7 separate regions of the Homo sapiens genome follow, and all the other regions are linked to region 6. The links come from fine-mapping of genetic effects on gene expression. A gene starts in region 6. Each other region holds a variant in brackets. All regions are shown on one strand. Distances are between the middles of the regions. Region 1 overlaps PRDM7 (PR/SET domain 7). Region 2 has its middle 19 kb from the start of SNORA119. Region 3 overlaps DRC4 (dynein regulatory complex subunit 4). Region 4 has its middle 31 kb from the start of DBNDD1. Region 5 has its middle 5.1 kb from the start of PRDM7. Region 6 holds the start of DEF8 (differentially expressed in FDCP 8 homolog). Region 7 has its middle 26 kb from the start of SNORA119.

What was found. PIP is the estimated chance that this variant, and not a neighbour inherited with it, causes the effect.
Region 1: its variant is fine-mapped to the expression of DEF8 in spinal cord (GTEx, PIP 0.92).
Region 2: its variant is fine-mapped to the expression of DEF8 in whole blood (TOPMed, PIP above 0.99).
Region 3: its variant is fine-mapped to the expression of DEF8 in whole blood (TOPMed, PIP above 0.99).
Region 4: its variant is fine-mapped to the expression of DEF8 in testis (GTEx, PIP 0.92).
Region 5: its variant is fine-mapped to the expression of DEF8 in whole blood (TOPMed, PIP above 0.99).
Region 7: its variant is fine-mapped to the expression of DEF8 in whole blood (INTERVAL, PIP above 0.99).

The regions. Positions count from the first base shown.
Region 1 is chr16:90,054,993-90,059,058 of GRCh38, reverse strand. PRDM7 (PR/SET domain 7) reads left to right here. Exons shown (of 11, transcript NM_001098173.2): 11 at 525-2,493. The coding sequence ends at 770. Among named protein-coding and RNA genes, the nearest start is that of PRDM7, 20 kb to the left of the region's middle. RefSeq lists enhancers at 965-1,014, 415-1,614. The variant C/T (reference allele first, on the strand shown) is at 2,361.
Region 2 is chr16:89,970,678-89,974,743 of GRCh38, reverse strand. It overlaps the pseudogene CENPBD1P and the pseudogene AFG3L1P. Among named protein-coding and RNA genes, the nearest start is that of SNORA119, 19 kb to the right of the region's middle. RefSeq lists enhancers at 1,133-2,116, 2,427-2,486 and a silencer at 1,807-2,286. The variant G/A (reference allele first, on the strand shown) is at 1,895.
Region 3 is chr16:90,031,391-90,035,456 of GRCh38, reverse strand. It overlaps DRC4 (dynein regulatory complex subunit 4), which reads right to left. Exons shown (of 11, transcript NM_001481.3): 3 at 3,961-4,066; 4 at 2,533-2,739. Among named protein-coding and RNA genes, the nearest start is that of GAS8-AS1, 3.5 kb to the right of the region's middle. The variant TGA/A (reference allele first, on the strand shown) is at 2,057.
Region 4 is chr16:89,986,823-89,990,888 of GRCh38, reverse strand. It overlaps the pseudogene AFG3L1P. Among named protein-coding and RNA genes, the nearest start is that of DBNDD1, 31 kb to the left of the region's middle. RefSeq lists a silencer at 2,339-2,513. The variant TG/G (reference allele first, on the strand shown) is at 1,941.
Region 5 is chr16:90,080,387-90,084,452 of GRCh38, reverse strand. No RefSeq gene overlaps it. Among named protein-coding and RNA genes, the nearest start is that of PRDM7, 5.1 kb to the right of the region's middle. RefSeq lists enhancers at 1,239-1,893, 1,966-2,095, 1,894-2,549. The variant C/A (reference allele first, on the strand shown) is at 2,140.
Region 6 is chr16:89,946,557-89,950,622 of GRCh38, reverse strand. It overlaps DEF8 (differentially expressed in FDCP 8 homolog), which reads right to left and starts at 1,868. Exons shown (of 13, transcript NM_001242818.2): 1 at 1,809-1,868; 2 at 1,110-1,206. RefSeq lists a silencer at 1,739-1,838 and an enhancer at 2,519-2,858.
Region 7 is chr16:89,977,388-89,981,453 of GRCh38, reverse strand. It overlaps the pseudogene AFG3L1P. Among named protein-coding and RNA genes, the nearest start is that of SNORA119, 26 kb to the right of the region's middle. The variant AAG/G (reference allele first, on the strand shown) is at 2,173.

The sequences.
Region 1 (4,066 bases), 110 kb before region 6:
TTTGTGGATCTCCAGGCTGAGTGCTCCTAATAGATCCTTTTCCCCTCTTAGGAAGTCACTAAGGACAATCTCACCTAAGTCATCAAGAGTGTTATTTCTCAATAGAATAAAATAGCTGAAAACCTCGCGTCGCAAAAGTGCCCAGGGCCCAGGGAGGGAGCATGTGGCAGAGGTGATCAGGGAAGGCTTTACAGGACTTGGAAGATACCTGTGGCATGGGGGAAAGGTCACTGCAGTTCCATCTATGTAAGGAATGATGCTGCCCCTGATGCTGCTTGAGGTTACCCAGAGTCTGGCTGATACGTAGAAAAGGCCCAAGATGTGGGATTTCTGGATTTTTTAAGATGTAGTGAATAAAAGTGGAATGGAAAAATGGACTGTAAAGGTCCATCCAGCACTTGGTGGGAGAGAGCTTGCATTGTTAACATATGAAGAATGACTGGTTCTTCATTTGATCTTCATACCTTCATATGTAGTAAGGCCTGAACAAAACATCTACCCTGACCAAAAACTTCCTCTTTCAGAACCAAAGCCAGAGATCCATCCATGTCCCTCATGCTGTCTGGCCTTTTCAAGTCAAAAATTTCTCAGTCAACATGTGGAACGCAATCACTCCTCTCAGAACTTCCCAGGACCATCTGCAAGAAAACTTCTCCAACCAGAGAATCCCTGCCCAGGGGATCAGAATCAGGAGCGGCAATATTCTGATCCACGCTGCTGTAATGACAAAACCAAAGGTCAAGAGATCAAAGAAAGGTCCAAACTCTTGAATAAAAGGACATGGCAGAGGGAGATTTCAAGGGCCTTTTCTAGCCCACCCAAAGGACAAATGGGGAGCTCTAGAGTGGGAGAAAGAATGATGGAAGAAGAGTCCAGAACAGGCCAGAAAGTGAATCCAGGGAACACAGGCAAATTATTTGTGGGGGTAGGAATCTCAAGAATTGCGAAAGTCAAATATGGAGAGTGTGGGCAAGGTTTCAGTGATAAGTCAGATGTTATTACACACCAAAGGACACACACAGGGGGGAAGCCCTACGTCTGCAGAGAGTGTGGGAGGGCTTTAGCCGGAAGTCAGACCTCCTCAGTCACCAGAGGACACACACAGGGGAGAAGCCTTATGTCTGCAGAGAGTGTGAGCGGGGCTTTAGCCGGAAGTCAGTCCTCCTCATTCACCAGAGGACACACAGGGGAGACGCCCCAGTCTGCAGGAAGGATGAGTAAGTCATTAGTAATAAAACCTTATCTCAATAGCCACAAGAAGACAAACGTGATCACCACACACTTGCACACCCCAGCTCTGAGGTGGCTTCAGCGAAAGTCTGCTAACCCCTTACATTCCCCGAGAGTGTAAAGAGATCGGAAATAACTAATTAAACAAATCCGCCACTTTCATGACTAGAGTTGAGGAAGAACAGGGGATAGTTCTGTAAGTGTTCGGGGGACGTCAACATGTGTGGTTGTTTCCCGCACTGATCCCCTCCATTTTTTGTGTTTTGCCTCCTGTTCTAATTAATTTTGTCTCCATACATATCTGAACCCCAAGTGTGTACCTCATTCTTCCCTTATCACTGAAGGAAGGAAGAGTCCAGAAGGGCCACAGAGAACTCAAACGTTCAGTTCAAGTCTCCACAGGAATTCAACCCCAGAAAGACATAAACTTGGAGTCCATCTGGTTTAATTATTGGAGAATCGATTCCCAAGTCCAGGAAGAGAAATGTAGGGTTTTACAGAGTCGCAGCAGGAAAGAGAGCTCCCTGGTCTCCTGGGAAGTGTGACCTCTTCTAATGGACCCCTCTCCTCTGCTGCCATACTCCCCCTTGGCTCCCCCTGTCTCCTCTCCTGATTTCCTCCAATCTCTGTAGCCCCAGAAGTGAACGCCAGACAGGAACACGCATGTGTGTATATATGTGTTCACGTGTGCTATGTGTGTTAAGCCTGCATGCATGGGTGTGGGGGTATGTGCCCTCTGTGTACGTATCTGTGTGAGTGTGGGGGTTTCAAGGGTGTATTAGGAATAACGCTCAAAATCCTAAGGAAATTGAATACTCTGAGAGAAGAGAGACAGACCCTCTCATACTGTTTTATATTGTTTTATACTCAGAAAAGGAAAAAGAAGCAAAACTAAAGGCAGGTAGCCTGGCGCCTAGGAACCAGACCTGAAACCAAGGAACCAGACCCGAAACCAGGCCTGGGCCGGCCTGACCTAAGCCTGGTAGTTAAAATTCGACCCCTGACCTAGCAACTGATGTTATCTATAGATTATAGAAAGACATTGTGAAACTTCCCGGTCTGTTCTGTTCCACTCTGACCATCGGTGCATGCAGCCCCTGTCACCTACCCCCTGCTTGCTCAATCGATCA[C/T]GACCCTCTCACGTGGACCCCCTTAGAGTTGTGAGCCCTTAAAAGGGACAGGAATTGCTCACTCGGGGAGCTCGGCTCTTGAGACAGCAGTCTTGCTGATGCTCCTGGCCGAATAAACCGCTTCCTTCTTTAACTCTGTGTCTGAGGGGTTTCGTCTGCGGCTCATCCTGCTACAAGAGCACTGGTTCAATTAGCTTTTAATATTTAACCTAACTACTCAGTCAGTGCTGAGACAGTTGTAATGGAGGCTGGTGTTAGTGAGACCTGGCCTGCCACAGCTACACTTAGCTCTCTTTCCTTTTCTTTTTTTTTTTCTGAGACAGAGTCTCACTCTGTTCCCCAGGCTGGAGTGCAGTGGTGTGATCTCAGGTCACTGCAACCTCCGTCTCCTACATTCAGTGATTCTCCTGCCTCAGCCTCCAGAGTAGCTGGGATTACAGTCACCCACCACCACACCCTGCTAATTTTTTGTATTTTCAGTAGAGATGGCATTTCACCATGTTGGCCAGGCTGGTCTCGAATGCCTGACCTCGTGATTCACCCATCTCAGCCTCCCAAAGTGCTGGGATTACAGGTGTGAGCCACCGCACCAGGCTCACTTAGCTCTTTTCTTCTACTAAAACATAATCTGAGAAGTAAAAATAAAATCATAAGCCCTCTGTATTATTCCATTTTCACATTGCTATAGAGAAACACCTGAGGCTGGGTAATTTATAAAGAAAAGAGGTTTAGTTGGCTCATGGCTCTGCTGTATAGGAAGCATAGTGGCTTCTGCTTGTAGGAAGGCCTTGGCAAGCTTCCAGTTATGGCAGAAGGCAAAGGGGAGGGAGACATCTCACATGGTGGGAGCAGGAGCAAGAGAGAGTGAGGAGGGCGATGTCTCACACTTCTAAATGACCAGGTCTCATGAAAACTCACTCGCTGTCATGAAAGCAGTACCAAGTGGGGATGGTGCTAAACCATTCATAAGAAATCCACCCCCATGATTCAATCACCTCCCACCACACTTCACCTCCAACACCGGGGATTACAATTCAACATGAGACTTGATGGGGACGCAGATCCAAACCATATCATTTCAACCCTTGCCCCCCAGATCTCATGTCCGTCTCCCATTGCAAAATACAATCATGCCTTCCCAACAGTCCCTCAAAGTCTTAACTCGTTTCAGCATTAACTCAAAAGTTCAAAGTTCCAAGTCTCATCTGACACAGGCAAATCCCTTCCACCTATGAGCCTGTAAAATCAAAAACAAGTTATGTACCTCCAAGACACAATGAGAGTACAAACACTGGATAAATATTCCCATTTCAAAATGGAGAAATCACCCAAAAGAAGGGAGCTACAGGCCTCATACAAGCCCAAAACCCAGCAGGGCAGTCATTAAATCTTAAAGTTCCAAAATAATCTCCTTTGACTCCATGTCCCACATCCAGGCATGCAAGGGGTGGGCTCCCAAGGCCTTGGGAAGCTTGGGCAGAGCCACTCTCATGGGCTGGCATTGAGAAGCTGAGGCTTTTCCAGGTACAGGGTGCAAGCTATTGGTGGGTCTGGAGGATGGTGGCCCCTTTCGCATAGCTCCAATAGGCAGTGTCCCAGTGGGGACTCTGTGTTGGGGCTCCAACCCCACATTTCCCCTCCTCTCCACTGCCCTAGTAGAGGTTCTCCATGAGGGCGCCGCCCCTGCAGCAGGCTCCTTCCTGGAC
Region 2 (4,066 bases), 24 kb before region 6:
AAAGATGACTGCATGGAAGCCTCCACAGCATAAGCTTCCATGAGGAGAGCTGTTAGGGTGTTTTTTGTTTTGTTTCTTTTTTTTTTTTTTTGAGACAGAGTCTCACTCCCAGGCTGGAGTGCAATGGTGCGACCTTGGCTCACTGCCACCTCCGCCTCCCAGGTTCTAAGCGATTCTCCTGCCTCAGCCTCCCAAGTAGCTGGGATTACAGGTGCGTGCCACCACACCGGGCTAATTTTGTATTTTAGTAGAGACGGGGTTTCTCCACATCAGTCAGGCTGGTCTCGAACTCCCCACCTTAGGTGATCTGCCCGCCTCAGCCTCCCAAAGTGCTGGGATTACAGGCGTGAGCCATCGTGCCCAGCCGTCTCTACTAAAAATACAAAATTAGCCGGGAATGGTGGTATGCGCCTGTAATCCCAGCTTCTCGGGAGGCTGAGGCAGGAGAATCGCTTTGAACCTGGGAGCCGGAGGTTGCAGTGAGCCAAGATTGCGCCATTGCACTCCAGCATGGGCAAGAGGGAAACTCCGTCTCAAAAAAAAAAAAAAAATGCAAATTGCTGCCACCTCTCCAACCTCTGCATGTCACCCTCAGTCCACAAGTCATAAAGCTCTCAAAAGAGAGCAAGCCAGTGGGGCAGAGCCCTTGCCTGTCGTGTTCACCAAGATATTCCCTGGTAAATGATTAACAGATCTATCTCTAATAAATGAGAAGCAGATGAATGATCCAGTCCGGGAAGGAACTCAAAGATCATTCAACGTCCGTCCTCCCTTCATAAAGGGGTCTATAGCAGTTCAATGATTCAAAACTCTCCTGGGCTATATTAGGCTGTACACACCGATATTGCATATCGCTGACTTTCAATATGTGTTAGCAACCAGGAGGACCTCTGCAATGCTGATGCCACATGGCCAAAGCTGAAAGACTGCTTTCACTCATATTGCTAGCAACTAAACCATCATACACTTTCCCAAATGAATGGAGATGGCGGGGGGGGGGGGGAGTTCATTCCTGAAGACAGGACAGAAATACTCATGGGATCCTTCTTCTTATTTTACTGCTGTCTGAAAACCATGACAGCTTTCTGGGATCAAAATTCAAAAACTCTGCATTAGAAAAACAATTCAACGTTACTGCTGCTCACTGGGATGTATCAATACAAAAATAAAGCAATCTTAAAATGCAGAATATTCCGGTCTTAGACCCTAACCCTATAAAACAGGGTTATGAGCAGGGCACGGTGGCTCAAGCCTGTAGTCCCAGCTACTCCAGAGGTTGAGAAAGGAGAATCGCTTGTGCCCATGAGTTCGAGATCAGCCTAGACAACACAGCGAGACTCCGGCCCCGCTCCCAAATTTTTAAAAATAATATAATAAATAACAATAGGGTTATAGCGATATCTACCTATAGGGCGGGTATAAGACTTAGATAATCCGCGTAAAGCCCTTAGCTCTCAGCATTAGCTGTTAACGACAGTGACTGGTCGCTGTATAAAGAACAGTTTGCAAAACCCTTTCACGCCTCTTATCGTGTCTGGTTCACTGAGTAACTGCGAGGTGGATAAAGCCGAACGCCGCCGAGCCCAGGAGGACACGGGCTGGCACGCGGGGCCACAAAGCTGGTTCGCGAGGAGGTGGGACTCAAGCGCAAATCGCTCAACGCCCGGCGCTTTACAAAGCCGAGCAAGGAGGCTGGAGGTCCCGGTTCCGATGTCCGAGGGGACCGGGCATCCAGTAAACAGCGGGAATTCCGCAAGAAGTGGGTGGAAGAGGTAGCGAGGAGAAGAGCAGGAGTTTGGAGACGGAGGAGGCGGGGGGGCGGGAAGCTCTGGCCAGGTGCTGTCGGCCTCACTGCGCGGACCAGGTCAGGGCCGCCGCCCTCCCGCGCTCCCCC[G/A]CGGCCGGCGCAGGCGAATGGCGTCACGCGGCGTCCAGAGCAGACCAGCCGCCCGGCACCGGCGGAGAGCGCCTCCCCGCTCACCTGTCGGGCCTTGCCCAGGGCCCTCGCGCTGGTCTTGGCCGTCCTGCCGCCTCCTGGGCCACCACATCGCCACAGCAAGGCCAGCGGCCTGGCCACCGCTCTACTGCCGGCCGCCGCCAGCAGCCGGTACCACATCCCCAGACCCAGATCCCGCGCCGCCCGGGCGCGCGCATGCGCAATGGGAGAGCGGTCCTAGGGCCCCGCGAGCGCAGGGAGGACTCGCGCAGGCGCGGCAGGGGCGCGGCGCCGGCTGGGGCCCCGTCTTGGGTGTCCACGCCGTCGCCTGACCGTTCGAGGGTTTGATCGCCAGCGCAGCCTCGCCCTGCCCAGACAGCTGGGCCCTAAGGGGATAGCCAGCGCCTTTAGACTTATCTTAAATCGGGCATCGGCATCAACACTTATTTCTGGGGTCCTCCATGGAAAGCAGCTCCCGAAACAACACCCGCCCGGTCCGCCCTCCGCTGCACTGGAAAACCGCCCCTGGACGTTTCTGCCGCAGTGTCCCCCTCACGGAGTTCCGTTTGTCTGCTTGGTCGGTTGTTCTCTGGAGCCCCAGGACCCAGGCCGCTTGTATGTGCCTGCGGCCGCACGGCCCCAACACGCGGACTTCGAGCGGTACCGGGAGACCCGCGCGGCCTCCTCGGAGTGGACAGTGAAGCAGCAGCTGGGCTAGGCAGTGGGGCTGGGCCTGCCCATGGGGACCCGTCCACGTCTCCAGGACATCAGCCTGAGCCTCTTCGCAGCCTCGTTTTCTGTTGACCGAGTTCTGCAAGGGGACGTAGAGGAACCACAGCGTTCTTGCGCTTGAGACCGCTGTGATTTTCTGACATTTTGGAGGCAGAAATGCCTGGGGAAAGGCCCACAGATGCAACTGTCATCCCTAGTGCCAAAAGGGAACGGAAAGCGATTACCCTTGACCTCAAATTGGAAGTGTTACGACGATTTGAAGCGGGTGAGAAGCTCAGTCAGATCGCAAAGGCCTTAGATCTTGCTATCTCTACAGTGGCGACCATTCGAGATAGTAAAGAAAAAATCAAAGCGAGTTCACAAATAGCTACTCCTCTGAGAGCCTCTCGGTTGACTCGCCATCGAAGTGCAGTGATGGAGAGCATGGAGCAGCTGCTGAGCTTGTGGCTGGAAGACCAGAGCCAGCCAAATGCGACCTTGAGCGCCGCCATCGTTCAGGAGAAGGCTGAGTTTGATGACTTACAGCGTGAACATGGCGAAGGTTCTCAAACGGAGAGGTTTCATGCAAGTCAAGGGTGGCTTGTGAGATTCAAGGAGTGCCACTGTTTGCCCCACTTCAAGATGAACAGCGCAGCTCCCAGCAACAAGGACATGTACACAGAAATGCTGAAAAGCATCATCGAAGAAGGTGAGTACACCCCCCAGGTGTCTTTAACGTAGATGAGACGAGACTTGATTGGAAGAGAATGCCCAAAGGAACGTTTATTTCCGAGGAAGAGAATGCTGAGCCAGGGTTTAAGTCATCCAAAGATCGCTTGATGCTGCTGCTTGGTGGCAGTGCAGCTGGGGACTTTAAGTTGAAGCCCTTACTGGTGTACCGCTCAGAAACCCGCAAGGCTCTGAAGGGTTCTTGAAGCCCAGTTTGCCCGTGATTTGGCGCTCCAACAGAAAGGCTTGGGTGACCAGGAGCATCTTTCATGAATGGTTCACTTACTTTTTTTGCCGTTGAAAAATACAGTGCCCAAAATAATCTCACCAACAAAGCACTGCTCATACTAGACAGTGCGTCATGCCACTCTGTAAATTTGAGCGACCTTTCTGATAACTAAGAGTAGAATACCTTCAGGCCAGGCGCGGTGGCTCACGCCTGTAATCCCAGCACTTTGGGAGGCCGAGACGGGCGGATCACCTGAGGTCAGGAGTTCGAGACCAGCCTCAACATGGAGAAACCCCGTCTCTATTAAAAATACAAATTTAGCCGGGCGTGGTGGTGCAGGCCTGTAATCCCAGCTACTCGGGAGGCTAAAGCAGGAGAATTGCTTGAACCTGGGAGGCGGAGGTTGTGGTGAGCCGAGATCGCGCCATTGCACTCCATCCTGGACAACAGGAGTGAAACTCCGT
Region 3 (4,066 bases), 85 kb before region 6:
ACCCGCTTGGTTCCATCGCCAAACCATCCCACAGCCTGAAGAGCAGCAGCCACATCCACACAGAGCTGTGGGATCTTTCCAGGTGCCGTGTGTAGCTTCCAACCTGCTGCACTGCTGCCTGAAGCAGCATATTAAAAGGATTCATTCCTGTCATCCCAGCACGCTGGAGGCCAAGGCAGGAGGATCACTTGAGGTCAAGAGTTCAAGGGCAGCCTAAGCAACATAGCAAGATCTTCTACAGAAAATTTAAAGATTGCCGGGCACAGTGGCTCACGCCTGTAATCCCAGCACTTTGGGAGGCCGAGCTGGACAGACCACCTGAGGTCGGGAGTTTAAGACCAGCCTGACCAACATGGAGAAACCCCGTCTCTACTAAAAATACAAAATTAGCCGGGCATGGTGGCACATGCCTGTAATCCCAGCTAGTCGAGAGGCTGAGGCAGGAGAATAGCTTGAACCCGGGAGGCAGAGGTTGTGGTGAACTGAGATTGTGCCACTGCACTCCAGCCTGGGCAACAAGAGCAAAACTCCATCTCAAAAAAAAAAAAAAAAAAAAAAAAAAAAGATTAGGTGGGTGTGGTGGCTCATATCTATAGTTCCAGCTACTTGGGAGGCTAAGGCAGAAGGATCACTTGAGACTAGAAGTTCGAGGCTGCAGTGAGCTATGATTGTACCATTGCACTGCAGCCCGGGAGACAGAGTGAGACCTCATCTCTAAAAATAAATAAATATATAGTTTTAATGAACAATTATTATATATTTAAATAAACATTATATATTTAAAATTTGCATAAAAAAATAAATTATTTTTAAAGCAGTAATTTTTCTTTTTTTTGAGACAGACTCTCACACTGTCGCCCAGGCTGGAGTGCAGTGGCACAATCTCGGCTCACCGCAACCTCCGTCTCCCAGGTTCAAGTGATTCTTCTGCCTCAGCGTCCCGAGTAGCTGGGATTATAGGTGTGCGCCACCACGCCCGGCTAATTTTTGTATTTTTAGTAGAGACGGGGTTTCACCACGTTGGTCAGGCTGGTCTCAAACTCCTGACCTCGTGATACACCCTCCTCGGCCTCCCAAAGTGCTGGGATTACAGGCGTGAGCCACCGCACCCGGCCTAAAGCCATATTTTTACCCAACAGGAAACTCTGATTATGTAACAATATCATATCCAGGACCTGGGTTAAGACCAGCTAATTCTGGAGGGCTCAAGACTTCGGCACTCTCAGGCTTTGCTGCGAAGTCAGCAACGTCACCAAGTTTCTTCCAGATTCAGTGGAGGCTGGACTGCTTCCAGGCGTGAGGCAAATGTGTTCAGAAAGTCTCCTCAACCCAGCAGCCAGGAAGAACCTTAGTGAGACACATCTCTCCTCTGCCCAAGTTCTCAGAGGGCAACAGACTCCACCAGGGTCAAAGTCCCAGTCCCCACCACGGCTTTCGAGGCGGACGAGCTCTGACCCGTCTCCAGTCCCCACCACGGCTTTCGAGGCGGACAAGCTCTGACCCTCTCCCACAGTCTCCTCCTGGTCACTCTGAGCTTTCCCACTGGCCCATCCCGTCTCCCAGCCGGTCAACTGCTTGTACAAAACCGCACCCCACCTCTCCCCACTTCGATCCTTCTATGGCACTCTTCCCCACCAGATACTCTGTTGTATCTGGCACGTTTATTTTGTCTTCCAACTCACCTGTTGTCTCTCCTTTCTAGACCAACAGCCCCAGTCGGGCAGGCGTTTTGTCAGAGATCAGATCAGGACCTAGCAGCTAATGGACACTCAGCAAATGATCTCTTTCCTTTTTGTTTTGTCTCACTCTGTCACCTAGGCTGGAATGCAGTGGCACAATCCTAGCTCACCACAGCCTTGACTTCCTGAGCTCAAGGGATCCTCCCGCCTCAGCCTCCCAAGTAGCTGAAACTATCGGCATGTGCCACTACACCAGCTAATGTTTTCTTTTAAATTTTTTAGACATGGGGTTCAACTATTTCACCCAAGCTAGTCTCAAACTATTGGCCTCAACCACTTCTCCCACCTGACCCTCCCAAGTGCTGGGATTTTGGGTG[TGA/A]GCCACTGAACCAGGTGCACAGATGAATTTTAATGGTGCCCTGGAAACCCCCAGCCTCAAAAGTAAAAATCAGACCAGCTTGTGTGACAAACTGTCACAGTGCCCAGGAGTCAACACACTGGATATTTTAATGGTTGGTTTGCATTCTACTAAATGCATATGATGCTATTCCCTAGGAAAAGTCTCTGGGTGTCAGGTGTCAGCAGCACATGAAAGATCCTAAGCTGGATTTTTTCTCTTCGGTGACGTCAATTTTTTGCTCAGGTCTGAGACAGAATTGTGTACTTGGTCCCAAAATGGGGTTTGTTTGGATGCATGCTTTAAAAAATTTTTTTTCAACAAATTGCAAAAATGCAGAAAGTCTTATGCAGAAATATGAATTCCCAGTTGCTGTTGAATAAACAGGAGTTCATGCAGCACTAGGCTTGCCGTCCCAACAACCTGTCAGCCTCCAGGTGCCCCCGCCACACCTACCAGCCGCAGGTTCTTCACCACCACCTCACTGGCCAGCTCCTGCTCCTTGAGCTCCACCTTCAGTGCCCGCATGTCCTTGCGCAGCACACTCTCCTGTATGCGGTGCTCTTTCTGTGCCAGCTTCATGACTACAGTGCCCTCAGCCTTCATCTCTGTCAGGTTGTTCTGGTGCTCATATAGCAGGTGCTTCACTTTCTGCTTGTACACCTGCAGGGCAATGGGAGTACCATCTGCTCACCTGCACCACACCTCCTCACCTTTCCGTACCTGTGCACACCTGGTCACCCATAGCACACCTGTACCACACCTCCTCACCTGTCCATACCTGTACACACCTGGTCACCTGTACCACACCTCCTTACCTGTCCATCCATACCTGTACACACCTGGTCACCCATACCACACCTGCACCACACCTCCTCACCTGTCCGTACCCGTACACACCTGGTCACCTGTACCACACCTCCTCACCTGTCCATACCTGTACACACCTGGTCACCCATACCACACCTGTACCACACCTCCTCACCTGTCCGTACCCGTACACACCTGGTCACCTGTACCACACCTCCTCACCTGTACATACCTGTACACTCCTGCTCACCCACACCACACCTGTACCACACCTCCTCACCTGTCCATACCTGTACACACCTGGTCACCTGTACCACACCTCCTCACTTGTACATTCCTGTATACACCTGATCACCTGCACCGTACCTGTAACACACCTCACCTGTACATACCTGTACCCCCCTGCTCACCTGCACCACACCTGTACCACACCTTCTCACCTGTCCATACCTGTACACACCTGGTCACCTGTACACCTCCTCACCTGTAAATTCCCGTACACACCTGGTCGCCTGCACTACACCTGTACTACACCTCCTCACCTGTACATACCTGTAGACACCTGGTCACTTGCACCTACCTGCTCACCTGCACATACCTGCCCCACGTGCTCACCTCCCCACACCTCACCTGCACATACCTCCTCACCTGGCCACGCCTCCTCACCTGCACACACATGCTCACTTGCATCCACCTGCTCACTTGCATGCCTCACCTTTACACAGCTACACATGCCTGTTCACCTATGCAAACCTGTACACTTGAGGCACAGAGCAGGACACCAAGGCTGGGAGGTGAGGTGCATCCCCAGCTCATGGGGTATTAAGTGGCAGAGCTGAGTTGCAAACAGGCCAGTCTGCCCCCAGAGCCCATATTCCTTCCATGTTGTGGAGGCAGCATTTTAAACCCTCAGGACCTGCAGGGTCTCTCCCTCAGGCTTTTATAAAAAACACCTTTAAGGCTGTGACTCCCAAAGCCAAGAACAGAAAATGTCCCACCTGCACCCTCACTGGATCCAGCTCCTCTGGGGCTCTGTGGTGACCAGGTTAGCACGTGCAGGCCGGCCCCACTCACCTTGATCTCCACCTGGTGCCTCTCCTCGGCTTCTTCCATCTCCCGGTCTTTGTTCCGCAGCTCAGCCTTCTTCTCCTCCAGCTGCCTCCGTGTGATCTCCCAGAAG
Region 4 (4,066 bases), 40 kb before region 6:
GGAGGACCAGTGAGCATGGCTCCCTGAAACAGAATGGTGACATCGGGCTCTTAACAGGGGAGCAGATGATACACAGGTGAGAGAGCTGCTTAAACTGGTGACTTCTGAGATTGACTAAGAAGAATCCCATTAGGGATGGCTAAGGAGCTGCAGGGCAGGAGGGGGCCAGACTTGCCCACAGCACACTCCGTCCTACCCATGTGCTCCAGGAGAGGCACCCACCATGGCCGCACACACAGCCAGCTCTTCATGATGGATTCTCATGGGGGATGCCACAGGCAGAGGTAATTCTGGGAAATCACTGTACCTCATACCCAAGAACGGGAAACCTAGATGGGCCCTGACCCCACTAACTCTTTCCTGACATCCACAGCAGAGCACGAGGCCTGTGATGTAACACAGAAGCTGACAGAGCCCCCTCTCGCAGGAGCCCCTGCCTGCTGGGAAAGGGGGACCAACACACCACGTGAGGGGCCTTTCTTGGTACCTGACTGCCTCACCCACTCCATCATACAGATTTTCCCCAGCAAATACATGCATATGAAAAAAAAACTGTAATTTGTTCAGCAGCAATAGATATAAATTAAAAAAAAAAAAAGGATGCGATCGCTCACACCTGTAATCTCAGCACTTTGGGAGGCTAAGGCAGGTGGATCACCTGAAGTCAGGAGTTTGAGACCAGCCTGGCCAACATGGTGAAATCCTGTCTCTACTAAAATTACAAAAATTAGCTGGGCGTGGTGATACACAACTGTTAATTCCAGCTTCTCAGGAGGCTGAGGCAGGAGAATAGCTTGAACCCGGGAGGTGGAGGTTGCAGTGAACCAAGATCGCACCACTGCACTCCAGCCTGGGCAACAGAGCAAGACTCTGTCTCCAAAAAAAAAAAGGCCGGGCGCGGTGGCTCACGCTTGTAATCCCAGCACTTTGGGAGGCCGAGGCGGGCGGATCACGAGGTCAGGAGATCGAGACCATCCTGGCTAACACGGTGAAACCCCGTCTCTACTAAAAATACAAAAAAAATTAGCCGGGCGTGATGGTGGGCGCCTGTAGTCCCAGCTACTCGGGAGGCTGAGGCAGGAGAATGGCGTGAACCCGGGAGGTGGAGGTTGCAGTGAGCCGAGATTGCGCCACTGCACTCCCGCCTGGGCCACAGAGCGAGACTCCGTCTCAAAAAAAAAAAAAAAAAAAAATTCTGAAAGGCAAAGAGAACCACCCACTGCAGCACCTGACTATGAGCTGAGGTGAATGGCAGCTGCCAGTGGAGCTCCAACAGGAGCAGAAGGCCCCAGGCTCTGCACATCTGTCACACACACCTGCTTCCCAGCCTCATGCTCATCAAAGTGGAAAACAGGTCTGTCACCTTCTGGCTCCGCCCCAGGTTCCCGGTGCTTGGTATAATCATTATTTGTTGTTTGGAACAAACTGCCCAGTGAATGCCCACCCCATCGGGAGGTGCTGGGGGGTGGGGGTGCAAGGCCACTGCAAGGATCTGGATGTCAGCCTGGTCCAAAGCCCAGAGGTGAGTTAAAAGGGTGTGTGAATCGAGTTTCTGTGAATGCAAATATTTCTGGGAAAAAAAATCCATGGCTTCTCTCAGGCCCCCAAAGAGTCATGACCCCAAAATGGCACGAAGAGATAAACTTGCTCTGTGTGCCCAGCAGCCAGATCCAGCACCCTGACCCACACCACCTGCAACGCGCTGGCTGACTGCCCGCACACACGTAGCCGCCGTCTGGCTGCACACACCTAGCCGCTGGCTGGGTCACGGGCTTACCAAGAGGCAACTACATCTGATCCCAAGCCTGTTCATACAAGTTGTACCTGTTGTTCTATGTAATTAATATTAAATTAATAAAACAGGAGTAAGAACCGACTCTGACCCACAGCCATCTATGTGGAGCTCAGAGTATTACTATGTTTTCCAAAATCAATACCTT[TG/G]GAATTTTTGCTCCTAAGTCCTGATACTGCTTGGGATTCTTCAGGAAATTCACAAATTCCATAATTTCCAATTTGATTCTTCGCACCCAGCTACGTCTGCAAATAACACATCGATGTTGCTTTTTAAGATCTTGGCTGCTGTCTCACCAACACCGAAGAGGCCCCCTCCTCGTCTACTGCGCCTGGATCCCATAAGGCCCCTCCTGGCAGCATAGACGAGAATGCCAACCAGGAGAAGGGTGGGCACCAGACTTCACAAGAAAGAGCTGGAAAATCCAAGAGAACTACTTGTCACACTCAGGAGGTCAGAAATAGCACCTTCATGCCAGGCACGGTGAGTCACGTCTGTAATCCCAGCACTTTGGGAAGCCACGGTGAGAGGATCTCTTGAGCCCAGAAGTTCAAGACCAGCCTGGGCAACGTGGCAAGACTCCGTCTCTAAAAAAATTTATAAAAATGACCGGGTGTGGCGGCTCACACCTGTAATCCCAGCACTATGGGAGGCCAAGGCAGGTGGATCACCTGAGGTAAGGAGTTCGAGACCAGCCTAAACAACCTGGTGAAACCCTGTCTCTAGTAAAAATACAAAAATTAGTTGGGCATGGTGGCGTGTGCCTGTAGTTCCAGCTCCTCAGGAGGCTGAGGTAAGAGGATTGCTTGTGCCTGGGAGTTCAAGTCTGCAGTGAGCCATGACTACACAACTACACTCCAGCCTGGATGACAAAGCAAAACTCTGTCTCTTAGAGGAGACCGCTCTAGGACTTTGTGTTGCTACACAAAAGGTAGCAGGGTTTTTTCCTTTTTTTGAGAGAGGGTCTCACTGTCACCCAGGCTGGTGGGCAGTGGCATGATCACAGTAACCTTGAACTCCCAGGCTCAAGAGATTCTCCTGCCTCAACCTCCTGAGTAGCTAGAACCACAGGCATGCATGCCACCACAACAGATAATTTTTTAACTTTTTATAGATACGCAGTCTCACTATGTTGCCCAGCTGGTCTCGAACTCCTAGTCTCAGGTGATCCTCCCTCCTCAGCCTCCCAAAGCACTGGGATTACCTCTGTGAGCCATCACGCCCGGCCCTCGGCCTCTTTTTTTTTTTTTTTTTGAGAAGGAGTCTCACTCTGTCGCCCAGGCTGGAGTGCAGTGGCGAGATCTCGGCTCGCTGCAAGCTCCGCCTCCCAGGTTCACACCATTCTCCTGCCTCAGCCTCCCGAGTAGCTGGGACTACAGGCGCCCGCCACCACGCCCGGCTAATTTTTTGTATTTTTAGTAGAGACGGGGTTTCACCATGTTAGCCAGGATGGTGTCGGTCTCCTGACCTCATGATCCGCCCGCCTTGGCCTCCCAAAGTGCTGGGATTACAGGCGTGAGCCACCGCACCCGGCCTCTTTCTTTTAAATGTGTCAAAGTCCATCAAGCACGAGGCCTCTCCAATTCTGAAGGCTCTAGTCACAGGCATTTCTATCTCCCTGATGGAACCTGTGGCTGGCTTGGTGGGGCAGGGAGAGTGACCACCCACCACCTCCTCCACCTCCTCCACCTCCTCCACCTCCTCCACCTCCTCCACCTCCTCCACCTGGCCAAGCAGCCCTGCTGGAGCTTACACCACAGTGTCTCCCCCGGGAGGTGCCGCCAGCAGACCCAGCAAGGCCTCCTCACATCTAGGGCCAACTGGGTTGTTTTGTCACAGGAAGACACCAAATGTCCGCCTGGTTTATTTTTGTCTTTGCTCTTGCTCTTCCAAGGCTCGAGGCCATCCCTCCTCCAGCGGCTCCACACTCACTTTCAGCCCCACATACAACCAGGCATCCTGGCAACTCAACAAGCAAAGACAGAACCCAAGTCAGCAATAAACAGCACCCAGATGACATCCGGGAGCTCCATCCAGCAGGAGACCACAGGCACTTCGGGCCCTGCCACTAGAATCTGAGAGAGAATCTCCAGAATTCTACCTGCCTCACCTTCTCTCACCCCACTGCAGCCCCTACTCTGTGCTTAAACATACGTCTCAAAGAAACCGCCCACACCACTACGATTCCAATTTTTACACCCTCCTGGCTAAAGCTGGTACTGGATTTGTACTCTCTCTCGGTTCAGTTTCCAATTCAGGGCAGAAGGGCCGCAG
Region 5 (4,066 bases), 130 kb before region 6:
CTCTAGTCCCAGCTACTTGGGAGGTTTGAGGTGGGAGGATCACTTGAGCCCACGAAATAGAGGTTGTAGTGAGTCATGATTGTGCCACTGCACTCCAGCCTGGGAGACAGAGTGAGGCCCTGCCTCAAAAAATAAAACAATTGCTCATAGGAGTATGGGTTTATTTCTGGACTCAGAATTCAGTTCCATTGATCTATTCCATTGATGATGCCAAAATCATGTTGTTTTTATTAATGTTGCTTTGTAGTAAGATTTGAAATTTGGAAATGTGAGCCTCTGAGTTGGTTTCTTTGACACTATGTTGGTTATTCTGCATCCCTTGAAATTTCATATAAATGATAGGATCAGCTTGTGAATTTCCGCCAAAAGTTTTCTTGAATTTATTTCAGCAATGTTTTGGAATTTTCCATGTATGAGTTTTTTTTTTCCCCCAAAACAGAGTCTCGCTCTGTCACCCAGAGTGCAGTGCAGTGGTGCAACCTCGGCTCACTGCAACCTCCGCCTCCCGGCCTGTAGTCCCAGCACTTTGGGAGGCCGAGGCGGGCAGATCATGAGGTCAGGAGATCAAGACCATCCCGGCTCACACAGTGAAACCCCGTCTCTACTAAAAATGCCAAAAAATTAGCCGGGCATGGTGGCTGAGACTACAGTCTCAGCTACTCAGGAGGCTGAGGCAGGAGAATGGCATGAACCCGGGAGGTGGAGCTTGCAGTGAGCAGAGATCACACCACTCCACCACACCACTGCACTCCAGCCTGGGCGACACAGCGAGACTCCGTCTCAAAACAAACAAACAAACAAACAAACAAACAAACAAAGCACTATGTCTAGGTATGACTGTTTTCAGAAGAGGTGTCATACTGGTATAACATATCATGGCATATCGTAATACTGATATGACACCCACAACACTGCTGTGACGTTCACAATGGAGATGATACCGGCAAGACTGCTATGGCACCCTTAAAACTGATGTGAAGCCCGCAAGATTCATGACACTCCTAAGACTCATATGACACCCTTAATAATGATATGACACCCATAAGGCTGATATGATGCCCATAAGACTGATGGGACACCTGCAACAGTGATATGACGCCCACGATACAGACAAGACACCCGCAATATTGATGACACTCACAGTACTACTATGACACCCCTAAGACTCATATGACACCTGTAATACTGATATGACAGCCGCAATACTGACATGACAGCAGGGCGCTTGGTACACAGCTTCCACTGACCTGGATTTGGATTGGTTTGGCCTCTATAATGAAGTTTGATGTCTCTGCTTTACTGACAAGGTATTAATGTGGTTGTTTATAATTTACAATAATTTCCTTCTTCTAGGATTATTGCAATAGCAAAGTTTAACTTATCCCTTCTCTTAGATTCCCCAGCAGTTACAGCAACTTCACACAAAATACTCCTATGTATTTTATCAAAGCAAAGACAGCCTAAAATTTTTTTTAATTTAGAAAAAAAAAGCAGCAGGGCATGGTGGCTCAGGCCTGCCTGCAATCCCAGCACTTTGGGAAGCCAAGGCAGGTGGATCACTTGAGGTCAGGAGTTTGACACCAGCCTGGCCAACATAGTGAAACCCCATCTCTACTAAAAATACAAAAACTTAGCTGGGCGTGGTGGCGGGTCCCTGTAATTCCAGCTATTCGGAAGGCTGAGGCAGTAGACTCGCTTGAACCTGGGAGGCGGAGGTTGCAGTGAGCCGAGATGGCGCCACTGCACTCCAGCCTGGGCAACAAGAGCGAAACTCGGTCTCAAAACACACACACACACGCACGCGCACGCGCACACGCACACACACACACACACACACCAAACCAAAAAAAACGAGCACTGATCCGGGGGCGCCTGTTTTCTCGGCCTCAGGCTGTGGCGCCTTCCCGTCCCCAGCCTCCTGACCGCGTCTCCTCTCCCGGTACCAGGGTCTCTCCCCAGAAACAAACTCACATCCATAACCTGCATCTTGGCCTGCGCTGGGGGTGACCAGCCCAAGCCCTCATGAGGGGACGCTTTTATTAATATAAAGTGAGGTCCTGCTACAAACGGCGGACAGGGAAACACGGCCGCGCTCCCGCCGCTACACTCAACGGCAACAGGAAGCTTTTTCCTCATCTT[C/A]GCCTGGGCGGCCCCAGGTGTCCCGAAGCTGCAGCAGCGTCTCCCTGTCTCACTGTGGACGCGGCCCCAAGTGTCCCCATGTCTCCCGAGGCCGCAGCCTCTCCCAGCCGCGTCCTGAGGGAGGAAGCTCTGTCCTCACGGTAAACGCCCCGCAACGCCGCCTTGCGGATCAGATACGGCTCAAGCGCGCAGCGCTCGGGTTTAGCAGGGGCTGGGCGCCCCCTCGCGGCAGCCCTCGGGAATCTCTGAAATTCAGCCTCCAGATTACTCCGGGCCATGATTTTGGAAATTTCAACTGAAATCGAGCCCACCATCACATGCCTTGATCAGAACGCATGGAGATTTTTAACAAGTAAAATAGATGGCCAGTAGACAAAGGTCAATGGATTTTCTTTTTCTTTTTCTCTTTCTTATTTTAGAGACGGAGGCTTGCTCTGTAGCCCAGGCTGGAGAGGCAGTGGCATGACCTTGGCTCACTGCAGCCTCCGCCTCCAAGGATCAAGCAATCCTCCCGCCTCAGCCACCCAAGCGCTGGGATTACAGGCGAGAACCTCCGCGCCCAGCCCTAGCTGATTTTTTTATATCACCAATAATGTATAGGAATAATTTGAATTTAATGAATTAAATTTTGGGTGTGCTATTGTAAATGATATTCTTTAAAATTTCAATTCATTGAGTATAAATCTAACAAAAGACAAACAAATATGCATTCAGGAAACTGAATCATGGTTGAGAGGAATAAAAAATATATAAATAAATGCAGATAGTCCTCGTTTAGAAACAATAACTTACTATTGTTATCTTTACCACAAAGCTAAAGTAATGAAGAGTGATATTGGTGACGGAATAAGCAAAAAGATAAATGGAACACAATAGAGAACCCAAAAGACCCGAATAAATACAGTTAACTGATTTTGTCATGGGGCAAACGCAATTCAATGGGGAAAGAAAAGTCTGTTCCACAAGTGGTGACAGCACAACAGAAACCATAGTGGGGGAATGAACAAAGACACAAACTTCACGGGTCAGCCAAAAAATCACTCAAGATAATCTATAGACTTAAATTTCCAAATATAAAATAGTAAAAGTTATAGAAGAAAACCTACATGGATTTGGGTTGGTGATAAACTTTTAGATACAATAGCAAAAGCTAGTCCATAAAAGAAAAAGAAATTGATAATGTGGACTTTATTAAAATTTGAAATGTCTACTCTGTGAAACATCCTGTTACAAGAATCAAAAACAAAGCCACAGACTGAGAGAAAATATTTATAAAACAAACCTGAAAAGGACTTATATGCAAAATATACAAAGAAATTCTAATGCTCAACAAGAACACAACACAATTAAAAGGTAGACACCTCACTAAAAATGATATAAGACAGCAAACAAGCATCCAAAAGAACGCTCATGGCACTTGTCAAGAGGGAAAAGCAAATTAATGCAACAATGGTATACCACTGAGCATCTACTAAACTGACTAAAATCTTTTTTTAATGCAATAAAAATTACAACAGGAGGCGGGGCACAGTGGCTCATGCCTGTAATCCCATCAGTTTGGGAAGCAAAGTCAGGAGGATCAACTGAAACCAGAAGTTCAAGACCAGCCTGGGCAACATAGTGAGACCCTCATCTTTAACAAAAATTAAAAAAAAAATTAGCCAGCCCTGGTGGCACATGCCTGTAATCCCAGCTGAGGTGGGAGAATTGCTTGAGCCTGGGAGGTAGAGGCAGCAGTGAGCAATGTTCATGCCACTGCACTCAGATTGGGCTACAGAGCAAGACTCTCTCTCAAAAAAACAAATAAATAAATAAAATTAAAATAAGTTGCAACAGGAACTCTCATTCAATGATAGTGGAATGCATAATGATACAGCAACTTCAGAAAACAATACAGCAGTTTATATTAAAGTTAAACATGCTCTCA
Region 6 (4,066 bases):
GAGGTCAAGAGTTCAAACCAGCCTGACCAACATGGTGAAACCCCGTCTGTACTAAAAACACAAACAAATTAGCTGGGCATGGTGGTGCATGCCTGTAATCCAGCTACTTGGGAAGCTGAGGCAGGAGAATCACTTGAACACGGGAGGTGGAGGTTGCAGTGAGCCGAGATTGTGCCACTGCACTCCAGCCTAGGCAACACAGCAAAACTCCATCTCAAAAAAAAAAAAAAAATCAGCCCTGATTTAGACTCTGGTTCTCCATTGTCTTGCCTATAAATCAGGGGGAACACCTACTTTCTGGGGTGGATGGAAGGGCTAAGGACTTGTTTATGATGTCAGTGAAGCCAGGAGCCCAGAGCTGCTCAGAACAGACTGGCACTGTCATCACATATGGTGACCAGCCCAGGAAAAAGGTGCAGGAGCTACGCCTGGGGAAGCCGCTGGAAACCTCCTGGTGTTTAAAACATGGCCAGAGGAGCGTCAAGGAAGGCACGCTGGCAGGGACACCTCCGTTCTGCCCAGCAGCTGTACTCTAGGCTACCAGCTCTCCTCCGGGCTGTGAAAAAAGGCATCTTTTATTTGCCTATTTACTGACAGTCAGTGCCAGCCCCAGGCCTGGCGCACGGGCAGGGGATGAATGAGGGGAGGCCGCTGGCCTCGCAGCCTTAGCTTCTGCTCACACAGACCTGGGGATGCCGGCCACAGTGGCCGACTCTGAGCAGAACGCCAGCCTGCCCCTCTCACCAGGCTCACCCCACCAGTTCTGCACCCAGATGTGGGACTTGGCCTCAGAAAGGAGCGGGCAGGAAGTGGAAGAGTGAAAGCAAGAGGTCTGGCCACCCCCTGCCCCTCCTCTAGAGCCCACTGCTCTCATCGGGGAGGACCCCACAACTTAGCAATGAAAGGAAGCCGAAGAAAGCCGGCGGGGTTCCGGGGCACGGAGGGACCCTGGGCCGAAGCTCAGGACACGCGGGATGCACGGACCTGGCCTCCCGCGTCCTGCCCGCGGCGTGACCACCAGGAAGCGGTGTCATCACTGCAGCTGCCACCCCGAGAACCTGAGAAGTCACCCCGGTGTGCGGAGTCAACAGCGTCCTGTCTGCCCATACCTGCATCGCCTGCCAGGGCCCAGGGGCTCGCAGGGACAGGATGGCCATTCCTCTAGGGCTGCTGGCCACGGAAGCCTGGCCGTGGGTTCGGCACCTGCTGCAGGGAGAAGCCACCCCAGCACTGTGCCTCCCCACCCACCACACCCGCGGGAGCTCGCCCGGTCTCCCGGGCTCCTCGGGGGCAGGTCTCTCCCACCCACCCGTTCCACCGAGGGGGAAACTGAGGCTCGGAGCAGCCCAGGGCGGGGGCACGGCCACGCGGGTCCCCTGAGCCGCCCGGGTGCTCCGCACGCAGCTGGTGTGGACGCCGGAGCAGCGGCGGCGTCCCCGGGGTGGGGCGGCCGAGGTCTCGAGGCCCCTGCGCCGGGCGGGCCGCCCTCCCAGCCCCGTCCCCGCCGGCCCCGACCTCGCCGGCCCCGTCCCCGCCGGCCCCGTCCCCGCCGGCCCCGTCCCTCCCAGCCCCGACCCCGCCGACCCCGTCCCCGCCGGCCCCGTCCCTCCCAGCCCCGACCCCGCCGGCCCCGTCCCCGCCGGCCCCGTCCCCGCCGGCCCCGTCCCTCCCAGCCCCGTCCCCGCCGACCCCGTCCCCGCCGGCCCCGTCCCTCCCAGCCCCGACCCCGCCGACCCCGTCCCCGCCGGCCCCGTCCCCGCCGGCCCCGTCCCCGCCGGCCCCGACCCCGCCGGCCCCGCGCCGCTCACCTGACCGCCGCCTCGCATCTGTCTCCCGGCTGCGCTGGATCCGCCCGGCCGCCCCGCTACGCTGGATCCAGCCCCGCGCTCGCTGCTGCCGCCTCCGGCGCGGAGGTTCATGGCACGCGGGTCGCGAGTCTGCGAGCCCCGGAGTCCGCCCGGCTGTTCCGCGGGCCTGACCTGGGGCTGCGCGTCCTGGGTTTCCTCTCATCGCAGAAGGCCTGTGGCTGAAACCCAAACCCCAACACGTTTAAAAAAAATGGGCGGGCGCGGCGGCTCACGCCTGTCATCCCAGCGCTTCGGGAGGCCGAGGCGGGCGGATCGCGAGGTCAGGAGATCGAGACCATCCTGGCTAACACGGTGAAACCCCGTCTCCACTAAAAATACGAAAAATTAGCCGGGCGCGGTGGCGGGCGCCTGTAGTCCCAGCTACGCGGGAGGCTGAGGCGGGAGAACGGCGTGAACCCGGGAGGCGGAGCTCGGAGTGAGCCGAGATCGCACCACTGCACTCCAGCCTGGGCGACAGAGCGAGACTCCGTCTCAAAAAAACAAAAAGGGTGGCTTTTAACACTTTTTTTAACCTCAGTGGTTGAGGAGGAAAAAGGAACAGAGAACCACCGTGTGCAGGTGCCGCCAGCCACCTGCAGGGCCCCGCGGGGGCTTCACGGCTGCAGAGGGAGGGACCCGGCGCGGCTCTACCCTCTTTACACAGGAGGACGCGCCACACTGCGCTCAGGAGGCTGCTCCATGCAGGCGCCGGGCAGCGGGACTTCGGAGGCAGCTGGTGTCCGCGGGCCCTGGCGTTATTCCTGCTTTCCCGTTGTTTACACACAGAGCAGGCCTGCTGCTCCCCGCCCCCGTATCCCTACTCTTAGGCTTCTCGCGTGGAAGATTCAGCTGCCCCCGCTTGTGCCCGCAGGGAGGAGCTGAGGACAGATGAAGGCCAGCATATGCGCCTGGTGCGCTTGCCCTGAGCTCGCGGGCTCAGTTTACCCTCCCTGCAGAAAGGTGTGGTTTTGGCTGCCTCTGGGGCTTGGTCCACTTTGTTCAGTGGGCATGGTGATGACAGTGCCAGTAACTGGAGGCCTCCCAAGTGGGAGCCACACACCACCTTGCAGAGACCAGCTCGGTCGGGGAGACCCTAACCCGGCAGCGCTAGAGGAACTAAAGACACACACACACAGAGATAGAGAGGTGTGGAGTGGGAAATCAGGGGTCTCACAGCCTTCAGAGCTGACAGCCTCGAACAGAGACTTACCCACGTATTTATTAACGGCAAACCAGTGATAAGCATTGTTTCTGTAGATATTAGACTAACTAAAAGTATCCCTTATGGGAAACGAAGGGATGGGCCAAGATAAAGGGATGGGTCTGGCTAGTTACCTGCAGCAGGAGCATGTCCTTAAGGCACAGATCGCTCACGCTATTGTTTGTGGCTTAAGAATGCCTTTAAGCAGTTTTCCGCCCTGGGTGGGCCAGGTGTTCCTTGCCCTCATTCTGGTAAACCCACGACCTTCCAGCGTGGGCGTCATGGCCGTCATGAACATGTCACAGTGCTGCAGAGATTTTGTTTATGGCCAGTTTTGGGACCAGTTTATGGCCAGGTTTTGGGGGGCGTGTTGCCAACACCATCTCATTTAACCCTACGGAAGCCTGGGGGCCAGCAGTCACCTACAGGACAGGCAACTCCATCGGCCCCCCCAAGGCCACATCGCTCAGAAAGGGTGCAGTGAGATTCCACCCCAGCTTAGGGTGGCTTCGGACGCCGTGTCCCTCCATGCACTCAGACCTGGAGGGAGACTGCCCTGAGCCGCCGCTCTATCTGCTGCTTCAAGGTCCCCAGTCCTAGAGATTCCACGTCCACCTGGCCTCTCTCCCAGCTCCTCCTTCTGGAAAGGCCTTCCCCATCTCAGCTCCCACCTGGGCCCCACAGTACATCCTCAGCCTGGCAGTGAGAGGGACCCTGGGAAGAAGTCGGCCCCCACCTTCACCTCCTGGCTCCTCTCCCCAACAGGCCAGGCCCACCCCCACCCCCACCTTCACCTCCTGGCTCGTCTCCCCAACAAGCCAGGCCCACCCCCACCGGGGCCCCTGCCTGGCTGAGCCTCTGTGGAGCAGTCCTCCCCAGTAACCCCAACACCTCCTCCTTGCCTCTGCTCAGCAGTCCTCAGTGATCTCTGGGAGGCAGGGCCCTTCCCCTCACTCACTCACCTTCTCCCTAATCACTCGTCACTGTCTGATGTCTTCGGTTTTGCACATTTTTCTTT
Region 7 (4,066 bases), 31 kb before region 6:
GTAGTCCCAGCACTAAAGGAGGCCAAGGTGAGAGGACTGCTTGAGCCCAGGAGTTCGAGACCAGCCTGGGCAACGGTGGGTGACCCCATGTCCACAAAAAATTTAAAAAAAAATTAGCCAGGAGTGGTGGTGCAAGCCTGTGGTCTCAGCTGCTCTAGAGGCTGAGGTGGGAGAATCATCTGAGCCTGGGAAGTCAAGGCTACAGTAAGCAGTGATCGTATCACTGCACTCCAGCCTGGATGACACAGTGAGACCCTATCTCAAAAATAATAATAATAATAAAATCCAGATAGAAATCTCAGCACATTTTTATTTTTTTTTAATTTTTTTTTTTTTGGAGACAAGGTCTTACTTGGTCACCCAGGCTGGAGTGCAGTCGCACGATCATGGTTTACTGCAGCCTCAACCTCTCGGGCTCAAGCAATCCTGAGTACCTGGGACCAGAGGTACACACCACCATGCCTGGCTTTTTTTTTTTTTTTTTTTTTTTGTAGAGACAAGGTTTCACTATGTTGCCAAGGCTGGTGTCAAACTCCTAGGCTCAGGCAATCCTCCCACCTCCCAAAGTGCTGGGATTACAGGCATGACCCACTGCACCCGGCCTCAGTACATTTTTAGAAACTAATTTCTTTGAAACTTATGAACTAATTCAACAGTTCACCTTTAAACAAGCAGAAAGATTGATATGGGTTTAAATTTATGTGTTCCCCCAAAATTTCCATGTTGGAACTCAATCCCTAAGGTGAAGGTATTAAGAGATGGGGCCCCTGGGAGGGGATTAGGTCCCAAGGGCTCTGCCTTCCCGAATGGGATTGGTGCCCTCACAATCTGTTGCCCAGGTTGGAGTGCAGTGGTGTGATCACGGCTCACCGCAGCCTCGACTCCCAGCTTCATGCAATCCTCCCGCCTGAGCCTCCTGAGTAACTGGGACTACAGGCACGCACCACCACGCCTGGCTTATTTTTGTATTTTTTGTGGAGACAGCGTTCATGTTGTCCAGGCTATGATCTTGTACCTCCAGCCTCCACAACTGTGAGCAGTAAATGTACCCTGTTTATAAATTACCCAGTCTGATGTATTGTTACAGCAGCAGGCGCAGACTAAGATGCACACAAACCTTCTGCATCCGCCTCCACCAGGCAACGTTATCCTGCTTCCCTCCTCTCCTGCCTCCGTCTCCTCCAGACTCAGCATTCTCTAGTTCACCAGTCTCTGAGAGAAAACAAAGTAAGACTTCACAAAGCAATTACATATGATTTTCCAGAGAAAGAAGATTCAGAAAACAGAAAAACACCTTCCAACACACAATTTTAATAACACCAGTGCCTTCTGGAAATAAAGAGACAACAGGAAAAGGATGAGGCTGGGGAGATATTGCTGAGAAGTAGCTTCAGATACATCTAAAATCCCTAAAATTTCACCTCGCTGGCTTCATATTGAGCTTTAATAGTAAACTTTTTTGGGGTAACAGTCCCAAAACTGGCTGTTATTAGGGGAAAGAAAGAAAGGAAGAAAATGTTAAGACAGACTGGTATGGGTGGTCCCCCTTCTCAAGAGAACCAGGGAACACAAACCACCTGTTCTAAGCAGAGTCTGCCTCTCCTCCAAAAAATCTGGCCTCCTACGTATATTTGTGTCCCACGGACCTACCAGCCTCTTCCTGTAATGTTCCAGGACAAGTTCCAGAACAAGTAAGCCATGACACTGTCCACTTCACAAATACAGTGCTACTCCAACAGCTGCAAAATAACACCATGAAAGGCCAGAGAAGGCCAAGGTGACCCCAGGAATGGCAAACATATTACAAGATGGAGTAAAAATTTGCAAAATTTTAAGGACAAACATGAGTCTTCAAAGAAACATTCCTTGGCCGGGTGCAGTGGCTCATGCCTGTAATCCCAGCCCTTTGGGAGGCCCAGGCGGGCAGATCACGAGGTCAGGATATCGAGACCATCCTGGCTAACACGGTGAAAACCCGTCTCTACTAAAAATACAAAAAAATTACCCGGGCATGGTGGCGGGCGGCTGTAGTCCCAGCTACTCGGGAGGCTGAGGCAGGAGAAGGAGGAGAATGGCGTGAACCCAGGAGGCAGAGCTTGCAGTGAGCCGAGATTGTGCCACTGCACTCCAGCCTGGGTGACAGAGTGAGACTCTGTCTCAAAAAAAAAAAAA[AAG/G]AAACATTCCTTTCGTAGCAAGGCAAGTCACCACACCTCCCAATATGACTTACGTGTTTCTTCACCCCATGCTCACCGGTACACAAGCAGGAGACATTTCACAGGGGAAACACAAAATACTGACTTCGCCAATCCCAAAACCCAGTCCACACCATCACACCATGATATAATTTTTAAATGATTTGTCGAGGCTTAGGATCTAAACCGGTTGAGAAGGTGCTGGTGACCTGGGAAGGATGGGTACCGCCCAGGAGCAAGCTCAGGGAAGACGATGTCACCATCACACACTCACAGGCCCACCTGCTTATCAGTTCCCAAGGAGATCAGCCCATTCAGTGAATGCTTTAAAAGTACTCAACTGTAAAACTTCACAGTCTGATTTTTCAAACTGGCCCTTTTACCTTTTTTTGGTGCTGTTGATGTTTCTCAGTTTGTGTTCCTTCCACTCCTCTTAAAGTATTTCTCAAACCCTGAGGGACAAAATGATGAGGTTCTAGTATTTCTTTTTTTTTTTTTTCTTTTTTTTTGAGACAGAGTCTCACTTTGTCACCCAGGCTGGAGTGCAGTGGCACGATCTCGGCTCACTGCAACCTCCGCCTTCCGGGTTCAAGTGACTCTCCTGCCTCAGCCTCCTGAGTAGCTAGGATTACAGGCACCCGCCACTACACCCAGCTAAATTTTGTATTTTTGGTAGAGACGGGGTTTCACCGTGTTGCCCAGCTGGTCTCGAACTCTTGACCTCAGGTGATCTGCCCGCCTCGGCCTCCCAAAGTGCTGGGATTACAGACGGTGGCGCCCAGCCTGGTTCTAATATTTTAGAAGACAGAATCACACCAAGAAAAGCAACCGTACTGTCAAGACGATATAGAGAAAGTGAGAGAGACGCCAGTTTTCCCTCCTCCTGCCTCTCTTCTTGCTTCATACAATCGGCATGAGCCCTCAGGTCCTAACACTGAGGGAAGTGCAGGGAGCACCTTCTACTCTGTGGAGACACAGGGTCTCCAGGGGCTTCAGTGAACACTGTCCCTGGACACAAAGCACAAAGCACAGGTCCATGGCCTACAGAAGGACTCCAAGTGGGCAAGTGTGCTCTGAGGTAATGCCAGTCTGCACATTGTTTCTGTTCTGCTTTCCAAACATGAGGCTTAGCTGGTCCTCAGAGTCAGATACGCAGAAACCAAGGTTTGTTCCCATACCTTCCAAAAGATTCATCTAGCACCTTCCTTTGGAAAGAGCTTTTCTCTCACCAGCTTTAGTGAGATATCAACACCATAAAGACATGGAGAAGGTGCTGGATGTTGTGTGGCTCGATATGGAAGCCAGGAAGGGGTAGGATGGGGCGGGGTGGAGTGGGGTGTGCCCTGAGTTGTCTGGACCCTCGCCCCCTGGTCACTCACTGTAGAAGTCACACTCTGAGGAAGCCACTCAGTTCCTGTAAACCTCATGCTGTTAATGATGGTGGATGAAAGACAGGTACCTTTGGGTGGTTTTGAACACAGCCACCAGGAAAATAACGTCGGTCTTGCCTGCAGAGTCAGCTTCTGAACGTGGATCCCCTGGAAGCACTGGAACAGGAGGCCAGATGAGCTTTCCTAGCTTCTTCTGCAATGCAACACCGCACATTCTCACTGGCCATAACCACTGGAGCAAGCAGGGTGAGGTGTGAGCTTATCGCCTTAAATACCCCATTAGAAATATGATTCAATAGAGTAAACAGGAGCAAGCTCACTGCAGAAATGCACTGCAAATGTTTATAGCTATAGCCTCCAACAGCAAGAAAAAACTCCCCCAAAAAACAAAAAACACGGCTTAGAAACTGAGGCAATTTATTTAGTAACTTGAAATATTGCAGCTTCAAAAACAAGACTGTAAGACTAAAACATAAAATTGTG